2 separate regions of the Homo sapiens genome follow, and region 2 is linked to region 1. A link means that fine-mapping ties the variant in region 1 to the expression of a gene that starts in the linked region. Tissue or cell type: whole blood. Region 1 holds a variant in brackets; the other region holds the start of a gene. All regions are shown on one strand. Distances are from middle to middle.

The links. PIP is the estimated chance that this variant, and not a neighbour inherited with it, causes the effect.
Region 2: it holds the start of AIG1, and the variant in region 1 is fine-mapped to the expression of AIG1 in whole blood (TOPMed, PIP 0.96).

What each region holds. Positions count from the first base shown.
Region 1 is chr6:143,016,768-143,020,933 of GRCh38, forward strand. All of the region lies in intron 2 of LINC01277 (long intergenic non-protein coding RNA 1277), which reads right to left. Among named protein-coding and RNA genes, the nearest start is that of LINC01277, 19 kb to the right of the region's middle. The variant G/C (reference allele first, on the strand shown) is at 1,698.
Region 2 is chr6:143,059,083-143,063,248 of GRCh38, forward strand. AIG1 (androgen induced 1) reads left to right here and starts at 1,807. Exons shown (of 6, transcript NM_016108.4): 1 at 1,807-1,984. The coding sequence starts at 1,844. RefSeq lists enhancers at 803-1,741, 1,567-1,696, 2,297-2,346 and silencers at 1,697-1,786, 2,037-2,106.

The DNA of each region.
Region 1 (4,166 bases):
TCTTACTTTTCATAGGAAGAGGCATAATATTAATTGAAGGTAGACTGTGAAAAGTTAATGATGCATATTGTAAATCTTAAAGCAAACATTTTTAAAAATGGAGAGAGTAAGTCATAGTGCCAATGAAACAGACTAATATAAAATACTTGATTTATATAATAGAAGGCAGGAAAAGAGAAAAAAGAACTCAGAACAAGTGGGTCAAAGAGAACACAAATAGTAAGACGATGAATTTCAACATAACTGTATTGATAATTACATTAAACCCAAACGGTATAAACAGTCTAATTAAAAGGCAGAGATTGTAAGACCGAATAAAAAAATATGACCTGCTACTTACATACTGTCTACAAGAAATTCACTTTAAATATCAAAAAAGGATAAAAGTAAAAGGATGATAAAAGATGTAACATGCAAACACTGATCATAATAAAGCTGAACTGTGTCTTTTAAGATTACATGGGAATTCAAAACAAGAAATATCACCAGGGATAAAGAGGGCATTTCATGAGACTAAAGTGTTCAATTTATCAAAATATCGTATCTGTTATCAGCCATAACAGACCTGAAGTCAACATTCACTAATTCTGTGATCTTAAAGCATGTGACTTCAGCTTTCTTAGTCTAAGTTCCTTAATTTTATAAAATGGGGTTACTGCTTGACAGGACCGTTGCTACTAAAAGTACTCTGAGTTCTATGTGAAATATGAAATTATTTCTCTGCCCATTTTCATATGTTTATTTTTAATTTTTTAACTCTTCATTTTTAAATCATTTCAGGTTTATAAAGCAGCTACAAAAAATCTTTGTACATTTTCACCAAAATTTCCCAGAAGTTAACATCTTATGTAACTAAATTATCAAAATCAGGAGATTAAACATTGATTCAGTACAATTATTAAACCTTCTTTAAAGTTTTACCAATTGTCTCTGTAATGTCATTTTTATTGTCCAGGATCCAATCCATGATCACATGCTGGTTTTGGCTGCCATGTATATCTACTCTCCTTTATTCTAGAACTGATTCTCAGTGCTTCTTCGTCTTTCATGTTCTTGTCACTTTTGAAGGGCACTGGTCAGTTATGTTTAGAAATATTTCTAAATTTAGGGTTATTATGTTTTTTTATTTGAGACAGTCTCACTCTGTCACCCAGGCTGGAGTGCAGTGGCACAATCTCGACTCACTGAAACCTCCTCCTCCCAGGTTCAAAAGATTTCCCTGCCTCAGCCTCCTGAGTAGCTGGGATTAGAGGCTTGTGCCACCTTGTCAGACTAAGTTTTGTATTTTTAGTGGAGAGGGTGTTTCACCACGTTGACCAGGCTGGTCTCGAACTCCTGACCTCAAGTGATACCCCCACCTTGGCCTCCCAAAGTGCTGGGATTACAGGCGTGAGCCATTGTGCCTGGCCAAATTTAGGGCTATCTGATAGATTCCACAATTAAATATACATTAATTATTTTGAGTAAAAAAATCACAGGAATTATGCCATGTCCTTTTGAGTGCAGCATATCGGGAGACATAGGCCGTTGATTTGTCTCTTACTGATGATGTTAACTTTGATTAGTAGGTTAAGGTGGTGTCTTCCAGGCTTCTTTACCTTAAAGTTACTATTTTTCTTTTTGAAACCCTCAGAAAGTGTACCCTGTCACGTTTTCCCATTCAGCTTGGCATAAACAGAGAGAGGGAGGGAGGAAGG[G/C]GGGTGGAGAGAGAGAGAGAGAGAGAAAGAGAGGGGAGAGAGAGAACGTGAGAGGGAGTGTATTCCTGACATCTTTTTAGAGTACATTGTATCCATTTCTGCATTTCCATATCTTTTCTTAAACTACTTTAATTTAAAAAAAGAGATAGAAGGAATCTACTCTATCCTCATCCCAATCAAGTTGGAGCTAACTTAAGACTTGCCAAAGATAAAGAACCCCGCAGGAGCTGGGTGTGGTGGGTTATGCCTATAATTCCAGAGTTTTGGGGAGCCAAGGCAAGAGAATCCCTTGAGACCAGGAGTTCGAGGCTCCTGTGAGCTATGATTGCTCCATGGCACTCCACCCTGGGCAACAGACAGAGAGAGAGAGAGAGACCCTGCCTCTGAAAAAAAAGGAACTCCTCGGGCACCTGAATTGTGCTGATGTTAACTCCTGTTTCAGTGGGAAAGTGTAAGACCTGTAAGGGGAACAAGAGGAATATTGGTCTCTCCTTGGGTTTTTCTCCAGGTGGCATGTCATTTTCCCCTCCATCAGCTGAAGTCTCTCATTCCACCCTAGGAAGTTGTTCTTGAACTCGGGCACAGGAGGAGTTTCCTTTCTGGGATGTTGAGCAAGTCCATTTTTACCTAATAACTTCATCCAATATTCATTCTTGGCTCTGAAAGCTGGTCCTCCCACGTGGTCTGCAAAACAACACACCCTCATCCTACTCTGCCTGTTTATGTCACTGCTTCATCTGACGAGTGTTTGTAATGGTCACATCTGTTGCTTATCTGCCTTGTAGGAGGCAGTGGAGATGACCAAGGTAATATGCATTCAAAGGAAAGGAAAACATGTCCCGCTCTGAGCCACACTCTTTTTCGGGGGCACAACATCACTGAAGTCATCATCTGCCCAGGATACCTCATGATTTAATCATAAGAGATATCTTTTTACATGTAGGAAACTATAATTCCCGAAGAGTGAAGGGACTTAGTGAAAACACAATTGAAGATGTAAATAATCCAAACTTAGAACTCAAATTTCCAGATTGTAAGGACTCTGTTTAAAACACTACTGGCTCTCTGATGCCATGAGCACCTAAGAAAGTTGTATGAAGATGAGCAAGACCCAATTTCATATTTACACAAAATTGCAGTATTCTAGACACTAAAGTAAAGACAGAAATAATTCTTCTCATGGGGAAATGCATTTACTTAGGAGTAAGTCCATGTGTAACAATTTAAAAAATAATTTTATAGCCATTGACTTTACATTCATATCAGCTGAGTTCTAACCATGGTTTTAATTAAAAAAATAATATTTATTCTTTTTTGGTTGAAAAAGCAATACAAGAACAATGTAAAATTTGAAATTGTAGAAAAAATGTATTATACAAAATGTAAGATGTAATGTAAAAAAATAAAAAGCACTGTTAAAGATAATCACTACTATAGTTTTGGTTAGTAAAATCCTCCAACTTTTCTGCCTATGTAATATAAAAATATTTATATGTTTTATATTATTTTCTATATTTAATTATATAAGTATATTGATAATTTATAATCATATATTATATAATTATATGTAAGTAATCATTATAAATATGTAATTATCATTATATTAAAATGAGATTATTCCTACTTCTTTGAGAAAGCTCCTTTTTACACTTATTATGAAGCTTTTCCTGTGAAGTTATACAACCTGAGTTTTAATGAGTGTAAAGTATTCTATTGGATGGTTGAACCATAATTTATGTAAATATTATATAATATTTATGTAAATAATATATTGTTGGGATATAAAGTAGTTTTTTTTAATGCTACTAACAATGACCATGACCAGCTTGGGCAACATGGCAAAACCCCATCTCCACAAAAACATTTTAAAAAATTAGCCAGGCATGGTAGCATGTACCTACAGTCCCAGCTACCCACTAGGCTGAGGTGGAAGGATCAGTTGAGCCTGGGAGATGAAGGCTACAGTGAGCCGTGATCATATCACTGCACTCCAGCCTGAATGACAGAGTGAGACTCAAATAAAACCCCAAACCCAAAATGATTAAATTAATATTCAAATATTTGAATCTTTATGTACATTCACAATAGGTAAAATATGTACAAATTAAAGTTTAAACTTATTTACTAATAAGTTACCAAAATCAGGAGATTTTTGTTACATATTTCTGTATTTCCTCTAGAAAGATTTACCCCAATTTACAATCTTCAAGCACTGTCTGTTTACTTCTTTGTTGTGACTATGAGGAGTGCATTGGCCACAGACAACAGAAAACCTGACCACAGCAGTAAAAGTAAGAAGTCTGTTTTTCTCAGACCACAAGAAGGCCAGAGGTTATCAATCTTTTCATATTTTTCATTCAGTAGTGCTTCACATGCATTTGCCTATATACCACCTGTATTAGCCCATTCTCACACTGCTATAAAGAACTGCCAGAGACTGGGTAATTTATGAAGAGGTTTAATTGACTC
Region 2 (4,166 bases), 42 kb after region 1:
CACCAATCAGCAAGATTTTAAAAGTAGCCAATCGCAGGGAGGACTGAAAAAAGGGCACTCTCATAGGACAGAAACAGAACACTGGAGAGGACAATAAGGGAATAAAAGCTGGCCACCCCAGCCAGCAGCAGCAACCCGCTCCAGTCCCCTTTCATGCTGTGGAAGCTTTGTCCTTTCACTCTTCACAATAAACCTTGCTATCGCTCACTCTGGGTCTGTGCCATCTTTAAGAGCTGTAACACTTACCACCAAGGTCTGCCGCTTCATTCTTGAAGTCACTGAGACCACTAATCTACCGGCAGGAACCAATTCCAGACACATTATTAAGGTAGGTAGATCTTCAATAGATCTACTCTTTTTTATTTTTATTTTTTTGGCAGTTTATAACCATGTACCAAGGATGCACAATTAAAAAAATAAAGCCAACTTTTACATTAAGATTTAACCAAAAATCATCAATAATACATCGTTTTAATGCTAGTAGAATCTTCTTCTGACATCAGTTCTATTAGCATAATTATAATGCCAATTAAAAAAATCTAGTGGGTCTCTTCATTTTAGTTTAGAGCTTGATTGGAAACATTCAGGAAAACATCCATGGCTTGCTTGCTACTTTCTCTTTACCTCTAGCACTATGCTTCTCCCCACCAGCCCTCCCTCCACATCCTCTGACTCAGAGACTATTTGAAGAGGACACCTGTTTTAAATGGATCCACAGGAAATACCTATGTTGCCTTTTCATAATCCGAACCTGCAACTGGTTGGCTGAAATGAAAATGTTGCCCACAGACTGATGCAACTTCAGTGTGACAACATTTACTGGAAGGCAGGAGGGACTCCAGTTTATATTTATTTTCCTTCCATTAAGCCCTGGTAGTGTAGTGTAAGAAAAAAGTAAGGGCAAAACCAGTTTAACAACCAGATGATTAGTATTAAATTACACGCAGGGGTTTTACATCCAAAATTGGAATTTTTTAAAGCTGAATGCAATCTTGTGGCAGAAAGTTATTTGAAAATCCTTTCTTTATAGCTTTTTATCTATAAACCTCTTGTCCAAAGTTCATATTCTAGCTGATGTTATATACTGATATGACATTATTCAATCTGTCATGGAAAAGTGCTGCGTAGCCTACCCATTGAAAGCAGAATTGAGAGAGTTTCCTAGTGATTGACAGTCGTTTGTCAACACTGAAAACCTTATTGCCCCAAAATACTGAAAGTCACTCGCGGCTGCCTGTGCTCGGGTTTACACCCCACGTTCACACCCCCACCGGATCCCTCCGCACGGGGCACCAGCTCTCGGCCAACTGCAACTACCCCAGGAAGCGTCACCGCGATTCCGGGGCGGGAACATTTGTGGACACTGGGGTCCACTCCTTCAGTCTAGGTTCCCCGCCCCCTCGCCCGGCCCGGCGCCCACTAGCCACAGGGCCCGCTTCCCCCTGGAGATCAGCGCGCACTTCCCGAGCCCTCGTAGCACTCAGAGGTCGCATCCACACCTGGGATGCCTAGGGGGCGCCTCCTGGCCGGGTGTCCCGGGACCCTGCGAACGCAGGAGCAGAATGACGAAGGTGACGAAAGAGATGACGACACGCCGCCTGCCAGGCCGCGGCCGGCAGTGGAGAGCGTCCGCAAACCGCGCCCGGCCAGTACAGGTCACCCGGGCGCTCGCGGCCGCGCCAGTCCCCGGGGGCGCGCGCCCCGCCCCCGCCCCCGCCCCCGCCCCGCCCCGCCCCGCGCCCGCGCCCGCGCCCGGGTTCCCACGGCGCCCGCCCCCGCGCGCCCGGCGCCTCCCTCACGCCCGCCCTCCTTGCCGCCCAGCCGGTCCAGGCCTCTGGCGAACATGGCGCTTGTCCCCTGCCAGGTGCTGCGGATGGCAATCCTGCTGTCTTACTGCTCTATCCTGTGTAACTACAAGGCCATCGAAATGCCCTCACACCAGACCTACGGAGGGAGCTGGAAATTCCTGACGTTCATTGATCTGGTAAGGCCGTCCCCTCCCCCTGCTCGCCCCGCACCCCGTGCCTGTGTGTGCGTGTGTGTGTGTGTGTGTGTGTGTGTGTGTGGATGCGCGAGCACCTGCGCACGTGCGCGCCTCCAGCATCCACCCGTGTCCTCGCCTCTTCCCCAGTGATTGCGTGTGAAGGCCTGGCTGCCCCCGCAGCGGCACCTTCTGAACCACTCACCGTTACCTGGTAGCTGGGTACCCTTACCTGGCAACTGGGGGACAAATGGAGGTGGGGCGCAGCCAGGTGGTGGGCTCTTTGGAGGGGGACACCGAACTGCTTCTAAGAGGTGACACGGGAAGAATCTTCAACAAAAGCATCGGACCTGATCCTGAATGGCCTGAGACCCATTCGCCCTCAAGGTGCTTTTCAGAGCACCCACCGTGGGATGAACTTGTTGCAACTGAAGGAAACTGGGTATTGTCTAGTGATTTGGAACTTCACCTGAAAGAACCAAATCCTTCTCATAAGGGAGAGAAAGCACCTAATAAAGTTGTCTTCTTTGCATCTGTTTTTTTCCCCCATTGTCAATAATTTACTTTCAACCTTTACCCCGTACATATTAGGAGACAGAGATGTTCAAAGTGCATTTCCAAGGTGACTGTACACACTTCTCTGTCTTCCCATGTACAAATTTACAGTAGTTTGCATAAGCAGCTCCTCTGTTGGCACAATATGATAATCTTGACAGGTGCAGGTTATTATTAGTATATCATTTTGAAAGTTTTTCTATTTCTGGCACTAAAAGGCCCTCTTCAACCTCCCTGGAGAACAGAACATGGGCATAAGGCCCAATAATGAACTCATGGATGGACCTAGGAATTTCAGGGTAAAGGTGACTAAGACACACGCTAAAAGATTATTAGGAAGAGGCTTAAAACAAAAGCAATGAAGTTCTAAAGCACTCAGAGAAATTGTAGAACCAATTCCTGGGACTCCCTGAACTGTTTATCCAAGACTATACAGTTGGTTGGCTACACCAGCAAGATTATAATCTCTTGTTGACCCTCCATTCTGATGAAGAGAACATGATACCTGTTTTAAAAATTTCCAAAGGCTTAGGATGCCTCAAAGAAATGCAGAGAGGCTTTTGGTTTAAAAATAACACCTTATATTTGCATTATATTAGATACTTTCAGAGTGGAATTTCAATTCTGTTGCCCAGCAGTCTCCAAACTGTGCACATACCCTTAGGCCCACAAGACTTCACAGGGTATAGAATGTTGCAAGGGTTTTAATTTTCAGATCCTCATCTTCCAACTCTGCTTGAAACTAATTTCCCTCTGAACATGCGTGATGCCTGCCAGTTCTCCTTTCATTCTCCCCATTCATCCAAGTGAGGAGCCCGTGACAAGACTCTGAGGTGTGCTTTTCTGTCTGTTCCTTTTAGCTTCCAGAAGATAGATGGTTGTCACCAGGGCTATCTTTATATTTGATTGAACAACAATGTCGGAGTTGCCTTGACAGAAAGTCTTATTGGGTTGATTGGCTTGTCAATGAGGATTGGCTTTGCCAATTATGTTGTGTAGCAGACATTTTCTGTATACTGAATGAGCTAAATCTGCAACCCTGAGGTTCTGATGCATATGTATATGAAGCAAGCATACCACCCATAGAGCGCCAGAAAGATGTCCCTTTTTCAAGTGTTTACACTTAACTATGTTAAGGATGTTGAGATGTTATTTAAAAATATGTGCATAGATTTTCAGAATTCTTTGAGGGGCTATGTGAGCAAAACTCCTTTTGGGACACTGCCTTATCCCATTCCTAAGTCAGATCTTACTTAGAGCTGGCCTATTTGAATGTTGCTAAAGAGCAGTGCTGGGCAAGAATACAGAGATGCTGTGGGAGCCATAGGTTCTAGAAACAGCCCTCAGCATCACTCTTGCAGTAGATGCTGTGTTGTGGGAGCAAGGCAGGGGTCAGCAGGTGAACAGAGGTAGAAATTGAGGGTGTTGGTTAACCCAAGAGATGCCTGCTTTTCATAATTAGCATTGCTTACTGTGCATTGAAAAACAAGGCTCAGAAGAAATGATATACCTCTCATAACCTTTGTGTGACATGAAACCATAGTAGAGTCAGCTTGATATGCTGTCATATAATTTATCTTTTAGCATTCAATGATTGGACTTGCCTGTTTTAAATACTAATCACCATACA